Regions from separate parts of the Homo sapiens genome. Here region 2 is linked to region 1. A link means that fine-mapping ties the variant in region 1 to the expression of a gene that starts in the linked region. Tissue or cell type: tibial artery. Region 1 holds a variant in brackets; the other region holds the start of a gene. All regions are shown on one strand. Distances are between the middles of the regions.

Region 1 (8,000 bases):
TGTCAGAGTTGACTGTGCTTGTTATGGCCTGAATATCCAGAAGAACCAAGTTGCCATTCAGATAAAGAACACAGAAGTGGAAAGTTTGGAGACAGAATCTAAGCTCACCCTAAGGATGCTGAGTTTGAAATCCCTGTTAGGTCTATAGATGGAGATGTCAAGTAGGAAGTTGCATATATGTCTGGAGTTTCAAGGAACTATATAAAGAGGAGTAAAGCCTAGCCCAATGTAAACATCAATAACCGATTGATAAATGATCTTTCTCTCTTCTAATCTCCTATAATATTTATAGTGTATAAATCCATTTGAAAGTTAATCACGCATTACCTTCTAACACATCTCTGCCTATTTACTTGAATGTATAATTGTTTATTTACTTGCTGATCACATATTTTTCTTATCTCACTGGTAGACAGGAAATTCCATCTACCAGAGCAATCGCTTCCTAATTAATGTTCTCCTTGCTTTGACCTTGACCCTCAAAGGCAGAAAGTAAGCCTACTTTTTTTTTTCCGAGACGGAGTCTTGCTCTATTGCCCAGGCTGGAGTGTGTTGGTGCAATCTCAGCTCACTGCAACCTCCGCTTCCAGGGTTCAAGCGATTCTTCTGCCTCAGCCTCCCAAGTAGCTGGGATTACAGGCACGTGCCACCACATCTGCTAATTTTTTGTATTTTTAATAGAGACGAGGTATCACCATGTGGGCCAGGCTGGTCTCGAACTCCTGACCTCGTGTTCCACTCGCCTCAGCCTCCCAAAGTGCTGGTATTACAGGCATGAGCCACCACACCTAGCCTCTAAGCTTCCTTCTTGCTCCATTAGTACCCAGCCCAAAGCCTTTTACATCGAAGCTAAATAGGGATCTGTTGATTATTTGATATTTTTAAGCAGTTGTCACTAATATGCAAAATTCAGTTGATAAAGATGCCCACTTAACTCTTAATTGAAATGTCCAAGAGTGAGTTAAGGATGAAGAAAGTTGCCAGGATAAATACAAGGCTTTGAATATTGATACCCTTCAGAAGGCTTTGGCATTCAAAACTTCATAATGGAAGTTGTATCAGAGTCTCATTCCTGTGGTCTAGGTTCTGAATCTTTGTGCAGAGATAAGATTTGGGCTGGCATAATTGTAGTCTAGCCTATATAGTCCAAAGTGGAGAGAAATTGCTAAATATCAAAATTAACTAATGTAGATTCTTATTTAAAAGAAACACATGAATCCTGACATCTGAGACCATTACAATGGCCTGTTACGATGCAGTCAAGTTTAACGGGGAAAAAATGAAGAAATTCCTTTAAAGCTTTAATTTTATCTCTCACTCAAAAAAACTTTTTGGTGGGAGAATTAACAGAAACTTTCATAATTTTTTTTTACTTCCTTTATAGCATATTTTCTTAAAGTTCTCAGACACTAATTCAATTTATGTAGATTTACTATTTTCTGGTTAATGTCTATTATTTCCTATGTCATTTACTCATCACCAACCCCAGAAGTTAGCTTCATTTTAAGTCTTTTTCTTTCCCCTTCCCCCGAAAGAGAATGTTTTTCTGTTCACACTTTGGAGTTTAGAGGTGGCACAAGAGGAGAAAGAAAAGCAAGTGTTGGTCAGGCTACTAGTCTCACTTTGGTTATATGACCAATACCCACACACCAGATTCACAGGTCTCAACTCAAAAGTGAAAAAAAACTTTAAAATCCATGAACATTCTGGGGTTTCTCTGAAATAGTAGAAACCATAACATTTAAATTTAGGACTGCCAAAGATCTAGCATATACAGCAAGCCAAATATGGCTTTGTCTTGAATTTTCGTCTAAGGCAGGAAATTAACAATAGCCTAAATTTGCGGTGAGTTGGGAAGGTGAAATCTCTTCTGTGAGTCAAGGATGTGTGCACTTATATGGCAAACATTTCTGAGTAAGGGAATTGCAGTTACTGCTCCAAGACCTCCCTGACAAGTCCTCTCTGTTGGTGCTTCAGAATTTGCTCGGTCCAGCACTCTGATTAACTATACAGTTTGTGGGTCAAAATCTGCCTGCAGCCATACAGTGCTTGAGCTAAGAATGATTTTCACAGTTTTAAATGTTACAAAACAAAACCAAAAACAAAAGAAGGAGGAAGAGGGTGGCATAGGGCAAAAGATACAGAGACCATATATGGCCCACCAAGCCTAAAGTATTCTGACCATTTACAGAAAATGCTTACTGACCCCTGTCTGGTGAATGACGTGGCCTCAACCACAAAGGAACCTTTTTTTTTTTTTTTTTAATTAACTTTGACCTCTACAGCGTATTTTCTGTTATCCCCGACAAGATACCAGGGAACTTGGTTTTTTCCCTGGGTACCTGTTGTTCACCTGAGGGTCTGAGAACTACTATGATTGAGAAACTCTAGATTTCAAGTCAGAGTCTCAAGTCTGTCACTTAATATTAATAAAAGCCCAGATAACCTAGACATGCTGACTCATTTCTCCTAGTTGGCTAAATGGGGACTATTATCTGTCCTGTCTGTTGGAAGCACCAGAATATTGACTTTTTAAATTATTATTATTTTACTTTAAGTTCTGGGATGCATGTGCAGAACGTGCAGGTTTGTTACACAGGTATACATGTGCCATGGTGGTTTGCTGCACCTATCAACCCATCATCTAGGTTTTAAGCCCTGCATGCATTAAGTGTTTTTCCTAATGCTCTCCCTCCCCTTTCCCCCCACCCCTCAACAGGCCCTGGTGTGTGATGTTCCCCTCCCTGTGTCCATGTGTTCTCATTGTTCAACTCCCACTTATGAGTGAGAACATGTGGTGTTTGGTTTTCTGTTCCTGTGACTTTCGTAGAATCACATTGTAAACTAATTCACATTATAAAGCGATGGAGTCTTGCAGGTCGGCAGGCTCACATGGCTTATAAGAAATCCACAGTATGCTGGTCAGAATTCATTGTATCCCCTGGGTAACTCACTCAGCAATATAGGGAGGTGATTTACATTAGGATTTCACTGTATTTGTTCCACACCCAAAAAAAGGTGGTACAGTGAACAAGAGAGGCCAGTGAGGGTGTTATCAAGCTTCTACTTGATTTGCTTTTTGACCTTCAGCAAATCCCCACATTCGGGTCCCCCACTTGTAGAAGACAATAATTCTTCTTTCCTGCTCAAGTACTTTGAGAACCTCATATAAGGAAGCAAGTTAAATGAAGGAAATGAATTATTTATGAAAACAGTAATTCCATATCTTTGGAACATACATTTGTTTAATTTGTGTCCTATGAATACAATCAGGACCAGAGAGGGACATACTATGGAAACTATGGAAACTACTCCAAAGGAAATAAATTGACTCTCTTCTTATCCCTATAGTAAATATTCTAACCTAACAAAGTTTTATTATCAAAGAATGTTAACATGTTTTGCCCAGTTTCATCTTTTTCAGTATATGTATGAAGAAGAAACAATTTCCAGAATCTCTAAATCCTGAGCTAATGTTTCTATTTCATTTCAGTGAGGTTGAATCTTGAATATATGAATATTATCAGATTCCCCTGGGAAAGAAAGCCTGTGTCATGGAGTATGAGTTTAAACAGTCTACCATAAATGGGTATAACATGGAGCTTTAAAGCACATAGAATCTTTGGAG[G/T]TATTTTCCCTTGTGAACTAATTTTGAGTTGCATCCCAAAGCCACAGAAAATGGACAAATGAATTGAATGGCTTCTCTCTGGGTATGAGAATTAATTGAATGTAATGAGAGCCTTAGTAATTAGCAACATAAATCTTCGAGGTAAAGGCTTACTAAACTCCAATTACGCCCTGTATCATCTTGTTCAGATAATCTTGCATCTTTTTAATTCTCCAAATTGTACCAAATTTAGAAATGATTAGAAGCAAAGAAAAAATACACAGTGTCTAAAAAGAAAAATCAAAACAGCTTAAAATCTAAAACCAACACAGTGATAAAGAAAATCGGAAAACCAAGTATCGGTGTGGTGATTGGGGGAGGTGATACATAGAAACTTATACCAAAAACAAAGCAAATTCAACTATATGTAGATAGAGCTATAGATAAATACATATCACACACACACGTATATATACTCATATATACGTGTGTGTATATGTTATATATAATATATATATATTATATATATAATATATATGATATATATAGAGAGAACATTATACCTTTAGTGGATGTACGTGTTTTGGGGGAAATCATACTGTGGAGATGAAAAACATCATATTACCAAGTAAAAACATGTAGTTTTATGGCTAGAAAAAGTATAGACTCCAACAAATTACTGCTAATAAAACGTCTGTTAATTTTTAAAACATAATCAAATATAGAAAAAAACTGGTATGCTTGTTTGGGGTTTTGTTTCTTTGCCTTCTAGAAGAGTAGTTTTTAGGATTTTCTCTAAACGCCAGGCTTCAATATAATAAAACTTTGTGAAAACTGAGTAATACAGTTGAGGATATAATGTGTCTTTTGGCAAACCAGATATAAATACAGTATTTTTGTCAGCCTTCAATAAGTTTCTTGTGGATAGCTGTTTTATTCTCAGATTTTATTTTCATGGAACTGATTTACTCTGATAGGGGCTAAAGCTTAGGGTTTTTGAAATTCATTTTTCCAAATCTATTTCATTCTGCTGGAACGTATTTTAGTTTTTAAGACCATGCCCAATACATTCAATTTGCATGCAGTGAGTTTGTCATGGTTAGATTGTCTAAACATCAGAAACTCAATAAACAACTGAGACAATTGCACCTTGCATTTGGTAGGCACAGATGACAATAGACTGCTGCTGCCCTGCACTTACAGTTTGGTGGCAGACACAGAGCTCAAACAAATGGAAAATTGTAATCATGATAAGTACTTCCCTGAGAATTGCATTCTACCTTACCTTAAAACTGCATCCTTTGGACATCGCACCTCCTCAAATCAGTCAGGGAAGGCCTCCCCTAAGGCAGTGGCAATGCAGCTGAGACCTGGAGAATAAATAGATGCTAAGAAGAAACAGAAAAACCTCTGTACCCAGAAACCACATGAGAAAATGCCACATGCCAGCCCTGATTTACATTGCATTGCCATGGGTGAGGAACCAGGGTGTGTGGGTCTGAGTCACTTGCCAAAGCACTTGCTGGCAGTGTGATCTCTGGGTCAGCTATTTAAATTCTGTATACCTTGGCTTCCCTGTCTGTAAAATGAGAGTCGTGAGGGTGCCTATCTGCCTTAGTTTCCTATTTCTGCTGTAATAAATGACCACGAACTTAGTTTTAAACAACACACATATTGTCTTACAGTTAAAACACGTGTATTACATTTCTGGAGATCAGAAATCTGAAACGGATCTCACTGGGCTAAAATTGGCAGAGCTGCATTCCTTTCTCGGGGTGCTAGGGGAGAATCTGTTTCCTTGCCTTTTCCAAGTTCTAGAGGCTGCCCACATTCCTTGGTTTGTGGTCCTGGTTCATCTTCAAAGCCAGAAGCATAGTGTCTTCCAGCGACTCTCCGACTCTGATCTCTGACTCTCCCACCTTCCTCTTTCACTCGTAAGGACCCCTGTGATTACATTGGCCCCACCTGGCTGATCCACGCTCCTCTCCCATCTCTAGGTTAGCTGATTCCCATCTACAGCCTGGATTACCCTCTGCTGTGTAAATGACATAGGCACAGGTTCTGGGGATTAGGACATGTACGTTGTTAAGGGGCTGTTGTTCTGCCTACCATACTATCTATCAGGGTTGTTTAAGGATTCACTGAGTGAATTCAAGTAAAGGGCCTGTAAGAGTGCCTGGCACTTGCTAAGAATTCACTAAGTTTTAGCTATTATTATTGTGTATATTGTCTTATTGAAACAAAGAAAAATTTACAAACTTAATTTACTTTAAAGAATTGTTATAGAAAAAAGAATCTGTTAAGCAGAAACTTACTTTGTGCTTCATAAAATGTGTAAAAATGGAAATTCAAAGTTAGCTTATTTATGAGAGCACTGAAATACTTATTGAATAGATTATTCACACAAATAGATTATTCAAAGAACATAAGTTTATTTGAGTTCTCTTCTGTGTTATCCACTAATTGCCAGTTTTCCGAAATTTAACTTTCAGTTTCTTCTGTTTTCCTTTCATCATTTATTAAAGGAATGTTGCAGCCTTTAATACAACTGAAATTAACCATTTAATTTCAACTTTGTCATTCTCAAATTGTGCCAAATTTAAAAATTATAAGGAACAAAAGCTTGAATGTTTAGGATTTAAAACCACCACAATCATAAAGAAAAGTCGAAAATCAGGTGAGAGAGAATGCATTTTAAGTTCAGTAGGTACAACTGAACTTACTAATTTAGAGATGGAGAATAGATTGTATCTCATTTGTAATTTTAAAGTTATCTCAGTGTTTTTAATTGTGAGTAGATTTTTTATTACAGATTTGTAATCATTAAGAAACTTAAGAATGCAAAATTACAGCATCTTGATTCTTCTACCAATAGGTACTCAATCAAAGGTTTGATGAATGAATGAATGCAAGCCATATCTTATGGGTCATAAAGGTAGAAAGTAGGAATCTGTTAGGTGGAAAGAATATGGATTCATTTGGTAGATTATCTGCATCCTTAATATTGGTCACTGGGTAATCAAGGGCCTTCTTTGCTTTCATACACTTTATGAGAACTGAGTAACCCACAGATTACCTTAAAATTCTGCTTTATGAATAATTGGAGGAAGTGAACATGGAAATAATGTCCAAAAATAATAGTTCTTTGCTGAGCACTTCCAATTCTGATAGTCACTTTGCTACAAACTTTGCACAGTATTCTTTATTTGTTGCCACAGTCCCTCTGAAGGATATTGTGATTTTTGTTCCAATATAGTTAAGGAAGAAATTAAAGCACACGGAGTAGCTCTGACCAATTGAAATATAACATAAGCCACATATGTAATTTTGAATTTTCTAGGGGCCATATTTGAAAAAGAAAAAAAGCATATTAAGTTAGTTTTAATAATATATTTTCTTTAAACCTATATATCCAAACTATTATTATGTTGGCATGTAATCAATATAAAAATTATTACAATACTTCATAGTTTTTTTCACGCCAAATCTTCAAAATGTGGTGTACATTTATACATATAACACATTTCAATTTGGATGCTAAATCTTTAATCACAAATATTTGTTCAGTATTCAGATTTCATAAAATTTATAGTTGAAAGAGTAAATTCATATTCCAAAGTTTCTCCAAAACTAGTTAAATGTTTTCCAGTTACTAGATAAAATAATCAATTCTTAAAGTTAAATCAAAGTTAAATAAAATTAAGTAAAATTAAAGATTTAGTTTCTTTGTCACACTAACCACCTTTCAAGGACTTCATAGCCACTTATGGCTAGTGGTGGCTGCATTGAACTATGAGGTGTAGCTATTACTGCATTTGTCCAAAGTCACCCATCCGGTGTGGCCCTAGGCAAATGTGTACCTGCCACCTTCCCTGCAAGCCCAGCCACACCCACCTCTTTCACTTCACACCCTGCTACAGTGCAACCGCGCCCATTCCTCCCATTCCACCCACCTCCTCTCCTCTCTTCACCTGCAATCTGGCCATGCCCACTTCTTTCACTCCACCCACCTCCCCTCCCCTCTTGCAACCCAACCACACCCTCTTCCCACTGCACCTTCCTGCCCTCCGTGTCTCTGTTGACTCAGGTCTGGGATCTCTTGCAGTGGCATTTTTCTGTTCAATATCCAATAATACAGTGGCATTATTCTGCTCAAATGGTACTTCTCTTTAAAAGTCAGGGTTTTTAATATAGATTATATAGAATAAAATGTTAGAAATTTGATATTATAGAATCCAGCTGCCTCACTGGAAGATGAAATCCAGGCCCAAACAGGTAAATTGACTTATCTGTAGCTTCTACAAAGTTGCTGGCAGAGCAAGGGTATTTGTTCAGGTCTCAAAATGATGAGACCCACATTCTTTTTAACTACATGGTATTTCCTCCTCTTAAT
Region 2 (8,119 bases), 420 kb before region 1:
AAAGAATGGCTTCCTAATCTTAATACCTGAAGCTCTATGAGAAGCTTCCTTAATTTTAGGCCACAGTTAATCCTACAAGATAATCTTATAGCTATAATAAGATAGTTTATTTTGTGCGATTATTATAATGCTAATTGTGACCAGCCAGAAGAACACAATACATAGAATGGAACAAATGTCCTGATGGAAACCTAAATATTTTACTTTTATTGTACTTCACATTTGTGTTTTTATTTTATTTGCAGAGGGTAAAGTTTTCTAGTCTCCACCTTTATATATTTCTGAGCTCTTTAAACCACACCTGTCTCAATGCTGTGAGGAAGTTATTAGAATTTGAGTTATTAAGATTTGAGTTTCCTTCCTACTCCAATCATTGCATCTTCTTTGAGGTAGAGAATCCTACTTTTTTTCTAGTAGTATTGATCCAATAAAAGTTTCCCAAGGCAATTTTGACTATTTTTTGTTGTTTTTGTTTAGCAGGAGAAAAAAATCTTTTACAACTTTTGCATGTACTCAAACCAATTTGAAAACACATTGTGTATGAAAATGTAAGGATTTAAATAATCAGGCTTCTGATACATATGTAAAATACATATGCAAATTAATATTTAAAATTTGCTGACTTCACATAGGACCAAATCATCAGACTAGCCTGGTTATAACCCATAACACATGTAAACCATGTCAAAATTTTTTTCTGATAAAATCTTATAATTTGTCAAGCATTACTCCTATAATTTCACTTTGATTATGCTTGAAATCCTACTCCCTACCCCACAAATGGTCACACTCATTTTCTCATTCTCAGTGTCATCAAAATGCAGCTGTTCTGCCCAAAATGGGAAATGTTGAAGCTACAACCAAGAAAGCTTGCTAAAGTGACTACAAAGACACTGATTGCTTTTTTCTCAGAAAGCAGATTACTTTGCAGTGAGTTTTTCTCCACTATCTCTCTTCCCAAAATGAGTAAGATAGGCATAAATCGTGTTAATGCAGTAGCATCATGAATTGGTATCTCCCCCTCATCTTCCAGGTTGTCATGGTGCTGTTTGCCCATGGTGTAAAGAGATTGTACATTTCCATTAATATTGGAGACTCATGCAAAATGCCAGTGGCTGAGATACTTTTTGGAGGCTTGGGCCAAATGGTTCCAGATGCTTACAAGGCATTATTTGCAAAGTAGATGTAGTCAGTCTAATAAATTGCTGACTGGAGCTACAGTGGGAACCATCTAATTGAATTGGGAGTCTATAATTTATTTATTTTTTTAAACAATAACCAACCTTCTTGTGTCTAGGATTTTTACACTTCTCTTTCTAAACTTGACAGATGCTTCAAGTCCTCAGGCTTCTCCACTGTCCCTTGTGCAGTTGTAATATTTTCCTCTGGTCTGTTTCCACTAATTCTCTAAACTGTCTATGTCCTTCACATAGTCCCTTTCTTTGCTGAGTTGGCTCATGTATGTTGCACTTTCCATAGGAAAACAAAATAATTTCTGCATTTGTGGACCACATTTTCTCATTAATTTGTGTAATTAGTGCTTGACAATATATAAAATAAATGAGAACATTGTCTAAAATGTGAAGAATTAGGAAGAGAGTTAATTTTCACTCTTTCTCTATATTTGTTATTCCACACTACTTGGTTATAAATGCTTGGATGTTAAAATGACTAAAACTACATCATGTAAGCTTTTCAGAATTTCATTATTTTTCGGCTATATTTAGAAAAAAAAATCCAATTCTATGGTACCAAAAGAACTTTAGTATTTCCCAATGATAGTGAAAAATATTATTTTATGTAATAGTTTTTCCAGATATGAAATACTCACATGTCTTGTATTTAAAATATTGCTGAGTAGTTGGAAAAATTAGGATGGAGACACCCCAACAAAATAAGAACATGTCCCAAGTAAAACAAGTCCACCTAAAGTTTTACAGAAAATATTTATTGTGATGAGACTAATAAAATCTTTCTGACATTGAATAGTATTAAAAAATGTTTCTCAAAGAGGTTTATGTCTAATCAGTCAGGAAGAAGCAGTGTCGGCTTTGCTGTTTGTCTGGTAGTTTTGAATTTTGGGGGATACTGTGTCTTTTCTCCTGAGAATGTAAAATTGGGCTCTCACTGCTGACATAAATGTGCTAAGAGACAGTTGTAAAATATTTATGGTATGGAATAGCGGATAAATAGCTAGCATGCACAACTTGAATGCCAATTAATACCCTGGAAAACATTTTCAAAGCTTTAATAATTCAACATGGCTTATTTTACTAATGAAAATCTAGTTTAACCATTTCCATGGTAATGTAACTAAGTGGGTAAGGGAGTAAAAATAGCCTCAGGCTCACTAAAGCCCTGGATGCCTTCACTGTGGCTTTATTTCTGCTCCACCTAATAAGGCATGCAAACTTCAGCATTAAGTATCCCTAACTAAAATCCATTCCATTTTATCACCAGATTGCTTGATCTATTCAGTGCTGGATTCGATTAGCATGCTTAGAGAATCTGAAAAATGAGATACATACCAAAATTTAAGTCCCCAGGGAGAGCTAAGTGCAATAACCAGAAGGTGACTTGTGTCTGTCAGAGCCCTCTCTCACGGTTGATCTCAGGGCAGTTCTGTAGGAGTAATCCAGCACCATAAGAAATAGACTTGTAGTTCAGCTCAGTGTTTCTTCAATTAAAGTGCATTGTGTCTGGATGGGAAAAGTGTCGACTCCCAGATTCTTCATCACTAGATCAGAGCATTCTCGATGTCCTTCCTATCAGATAAAATGGCCTTTAAAGTTTGCTAGGAAGATGCAGTGGCGGAAGACAGGTGCTTGCTTCCTTAAATCGACATTCGGAGAAAAGAGGGCATAGCTAATGGGTGGGGATGAACACACAGCCCCTCTCCTTCCAGGTCCAGCAGGGAAGAAATTGAATGATTTTACCCACTTTGCTACACAGATGATTACAGGACCAGAAGCAATCACCAAGCTGGCTAATGTACCTCATTTGATTATATTCTGCGAAGACAAAAATAAATGAAAACAAAAAATCAGAAACATCCTTTCTAAATGTCTCCTTTCAGCCAAAAAGATGCTCTTTCTCATTGCCACTTACATACAGAAGGTTTGGAGCAGCCCAGCTTGTGGCATAGTCCCTCCCCCGTGACAACCAGCTCTCTCTCTCTCATTCTCTCTCCCTCCACTCCCTCCCTCCCTCCCTGCCCCTGACTCCCTCCCTTCCTGCTTCTCTTTCTCCTCTCCAGCTGCCTTAGTCTGTTGAAGCTGCTGCTGATTAATCAGGGATTCTGAAACAAAGAACCTACCTTCTGAAATAAGCAGTAATCTTTCTTCTCTGTTTCTGCAATCCGTCTGCATTGAACGGCAAGGCTGCCAGCGTTCTAGCACCTTGGATAGTTCCTGCTCACTAGGCCCATTGGAAAAGGGAGAAGCAACTGAAGAAATTGCAAGAAACCGGAAAGCGGCATCGTTCTACTTTGGATTTCGGCTCCCTGGGGGCTCCCATCCTCATTAAAGGCCTCACATCTAGGCAACAGAACCTCTCTCTTTTATCTAACTGAGCTGAAGTCTGATTAGTAAATAATAAAAGGAAAAGAGGGTAAAGAAACACCCTTCATTTATATTCACTATAGCACTAATTCAGTCTTTATGGAGAGGAAAAATATAAATCCATTGAAAACAAATGTTCTTACTACAGAGAATGGTTAAGTTATAAGCATTTCACCCCTGGCGTGGCTAATGAAAATGAACAACAACTTAAATGGAACATCTAGATCTCAGTTTGATACCCTTATTTGATATCAATTTTGCCTCCACCCTCCCTGCACAGCCGAGCCATGCACACAATTACTGCTGACGTACTTCAGGCTGCTGCTTGGGGAGAGAGGGGAGGAGCCTTTTAACCTCATCAAAACAGCTTCATGCCACCTGCTCCCATGGCATGAGAACAAAACTAGTCCACTTAGAAAGAATATGCACAGCACACACGTGTGTGGAACAAAGGTCTTACTCGGACTGCACATTTTTTTAACTAAAATAAGATGCAAAATAATTATGATATGTATGTCATTAATTCCTATAGACTCATTGTTAAAATTAAAGTCATTCTATTTCTGATATTTCCCAAAGACTCTCCTCATTCTGTTCTTAATACTCTACTGAATATATACATATATATCACATTATATACCACAACTTATATATGTGTGTTTGTGTGTATTTGTATTTATTAAGCTCAAAGTTTTTCTCATACTGGCTCCTCCTCAGTAAAAACTAAAATGTACATGTTTTAATCTATTAATTTTGCACTATGATAAAAGGAATAATATATAATATGTTTCTGATGGATATGAGCTTAAAAAGCAATTTTGATGGGAGGGGATGTGCTTATTACTTGATAGTGACCTATAGATTTTTCCCCTCACATTCTTTTTCAGTAACTCACTGTAAATGACCTTCACTTGCAGGTTGGTTTTCCCAAGAGTGTTTTTTAACGTCTATATTCATAACCAAAGTCTTAGAAAATAGTTTTCTGAATTTAGTTTTTAATGCATTGACAGACCACAAAAATAAACAAGTTCACCTGTCTAATTCTTAAATGTCACCTGAGACTGTGCTGTAATTTTCTTAAATTATATTTCTTTAACTTGTAAGTATCTGGGGAAAAATAAAATCAACACATTACATTACTATAAAGCTTTTCTATTTTACATGTCCTGAAGTGCATTCCTGAAGCTCATCACTTATTTCTTGGTCTTTGTGTATCTAGCTTTTGGTTAGAACAGGACATCTGTTTAATTTTAAGAAGGATTCTGCAAGATTAGATAGATGAAAAGGAGGAGAAATACAAACGGGGAAGAGAAGAGGCCAGACCTCTCTCATATTCTCTTCCCCCTATCCCAATGCTCTCCCTTTCCCTCTCTCTCTCTCTCTCTCTGCCTTATGAAGGTTCTAAATACTTAGCACATTGCTGAAAAGTGCCTCAAGCACCACTTATAAACTAGTAACAGCCACCACACTGTGATCAAGAGGTTTACTAATGTGCCATTATTTTGGTAGTGAAGTGTTCTCATAGATGTTGTCTTTCAGCACATGACCAAAGGTGGAAAAAGTTCTTTACAAAAAAAAAATTATTGACAGACATTTTAGAAAACGGAAACACTTTATCATGACTGATAATTTTGCCAGTCTGGGGGTCTATATTTTGAACTATGGAGAGCTTGAATAAGCTCTAGTGTAAAGCCCATTTCTATATGTAAGAAAAATACTACCAAGATAAGTAAACAGACTTACTTGTTTCTGACTTACTTAATTGCCTCATTAGGATTAAGACCCAAGGTCCCTGGGCTGACTGCAGGTCTCCTCATCTTTGGCCAGTACAGTGGTTCTCAGTCCCCTTGATTTCATGCACCAAAATAATCCAAACAAAGTGAGGAGAGGCTGACATACAGTTGCCAAGCATAAAAAATGAAGAATCTGCCATTTCCTCACCACAAAAATTCAAAAAGTAAAAGGAATCTTTATATTAGAAGAATAGAGAAAGCATATTTATAACAATAGATGGTCTTTTAAGTTTCATATATTCAACTTTAGGAAAATATATCTTTTTCTTTCTTTCCTTCCTTCCTTCCTCCCTCTCCTCCCTCCCCTTTCCTTCCTTGTTTTGTTTCTTCTTTCTTTCCTTCATTCCTTGCTTCATCCCTCCCTCCCTTTCTCCCTTCCTTCTTTCCTTCCTCTTTTCCTTCTTTACTTCCTTCCTTCCTTCCTACTTGCCTGCCTCCCTGCCTTTTTCTTTTTCTTTCTTTTTCTCTTTATATTACAGAATAGGGCTTGAGAATCATCACATTTTACCAATCCCATTTTCTCAATCCCACACTTTCCTCATTCTAGGTGTCAATGTCACTGACAGGGCAATATATTCTCTGGAGACATATTAGTGTATAGGAGTTTATAGAACCTTTGAGGATCGTGCTGAGAAGGACCCCAGAACTACTTTAGGTCTCACTGAATGAAACAGCAAAGCATCTTTACTCTTGCAAATCATCTTAGAGCCAAATGCAGAACGCACCTCTACTCATTTCAATAGTATCTGGAGAAAAGTGCGTTGGACAAAATTTAAGTTAAAAATCCTCATATCGGGAATAAAGGTATAGAGATATTTAAAAAGCTCAAATTATACTCATGTATTGGTTTATTTCTTGTGCATCTTTATAAAATACATGGATGTTTCTATTCTATTTCTACTCTATTGAATAGACATCTTATTGATGTCAATAAGAAACAAGTCATTGAGATACCTGATGACTTGATATTTCTTTTAAAGTTCTTTAGTCAGGGTAGAGTTTAGCTCTTTTGGTTACACTGTATTAATAGAGTTTGATGCTTTGGGGGTTAAATAGGTCCCTTCAGTGAACTTGGATAGACCAGACGAGTCAGCGCCCTGAAAATGCTTCTTATTCTATACATCAGCCAGATGGTGGAAAGTGCTTGTTGTATAAAAGTGACGTAAATGAGAAAAGTGAGAATTGAAATAGAATAATTTAGTTACCTAAATTTTAAAGGGTTTATTCAAATACATGAAGTGAGGATGAACTCTCTGAAGTCATATCAAAATTTACTACAAAGCCTTTCTAGTTTTTTTTTTTTTTCCATGATCTGTACTCTTTCTATCATTCTTTTCACATTTAGCTTAGGAAGGTGACCCCTCTGTTAAAATGAAATTATTCCACTAAGGAAAAAGCTAATCTCCTTCCCATCCAATCAGGATTTCTAACCCTTCTGGTAACAGTGTGAAATGAAAGTCTTGGTAGAATGAAAACCATATGCTCCTCATGATTTTTGCCTATAACAATGTAGATGTCGACAGAAGTTGCACATATGACTTAGGGGTCGTGGGGCAGCAAATGGTGATATGGGTGCTCCAAGATCCAGCATACTCAGTAGCTAAAACAGAAAGAAAAAGTAAAAGATTTATGGTCTAATAATACACACAAAAAACTACTTTTACAGTGCCAAGGGGGAAAACTGACAATAAATGAAATATTCCCCTGGCAAGAGACTTAGGAATAGATCCAAACATCCCTCCATTGTTTTGTCCAACAGATATTTTCCAGTAAAGATTTCAGAAATACCATCAATGTATTCATCGCTATACTAAAAATGATAAAAATATTTCTAAACAAGGATCCATATATTCTAGTGAATCACACACCCACACTCCAACCAACCATCTCTCTTCTTTGCATGAACAATATCTATACTTTTCAAAAGTCAAGTATGTCTTACTCTCATAGTTTGTCCTAATTTACCACATTCAAACTGGATGCTTGCTCTCTGTATTATGAAATATCCAGTATAATTAAAAATAAAATCATGAATTTTTTATACTCTACCAAATATTCCTATTTCATTGTTCAAATGTTTTTGCCTAAGAGTCCTTAAGAGTGGAGCCCTTCCTTTCTGTTCGCATGGCCCCAGCTTACTGATTGCATCTAGCCAGTGGTAGGGATTTATTGAATGAATGCATGACTACATATCTCATCTGGTGACATATTCTGCACAAGTAGAAAATTCAAATGTATCCATATAATGAACATGAGATTGTCTTTTTTTAAAATAAAAGTATAAATGGAAATTTAAATATACAAGTAACCAAACTAAACTCCAAGTAAGTGAGGAAGAAAAATATTTCCAAAGGGACTCCATAGTTTTTCTAACTAAAAATGCAAAATAACCAGTTTGAAACTTACTAGAAATAATAAAATTGCTCCATAGGAAGACCAACTGAATATATGAACATAAGGATCATATTTAGAGAAAACAGTAAGATTCTTCTAAGATACTGTTTTAGTCAACTCAGGCTTTGAAAACAAGATACAATCGACTGAGTGGCTTAAATAACAGAATTTTATTTTTCACAGTTCTGGAGCTTGGATACTCCAAGATCAAGGTGCTGGCAGATTTGGCTTCTGGTCAGGGATTCTTTGCTGGCTTGCAAATTGTACCTTCTGGCTGTGTGTCCTCACATGGGAGGGAGGGAGGGAAGGAGGGAGGGGGAGAGAGACAGAGAGAGAGAAGAGAGAGAAGAGAGAGTAGAGAGACAGAGAGAC

Evidence for each region. PIP is the estimated chance that this variant, and not a neighbour inherited with it, causes the effect.
Region 2: it holds the start of NYAP2, and the variant in region 1 is fine-mapped to the expression of NYAP2 in tibial artery (GTEx, PIP 0.97).

Annotation. Positions count from the first base shown.
Region 1 is chr2:224,970,947-224,978,946 of GRCh38, reverse strand. The region is part of intron 1 of DOCK10 (dedicator of cytokinesis 10); the gene reads left to right. Among named protein-coding and RNA genes, the nearest start is that of MIR4439, 36 kb to the left of the region's middle. The variant G/T (reference allele first, on the strand shown) is at 3,629.
Region 2 is chr2:225,395,453-225,403,571 of GRCh38, reverse strand. It overlaps NYAP2 (neuronal tyrosine-phosphorylated phosphoinositide-3-kinase adaptor 2), which reads right to left and starts at 3,862. Exons shown (of 8, transcript NM_001371273.1): 1 at 3,317-3,862; 2 at 2,529-3,011.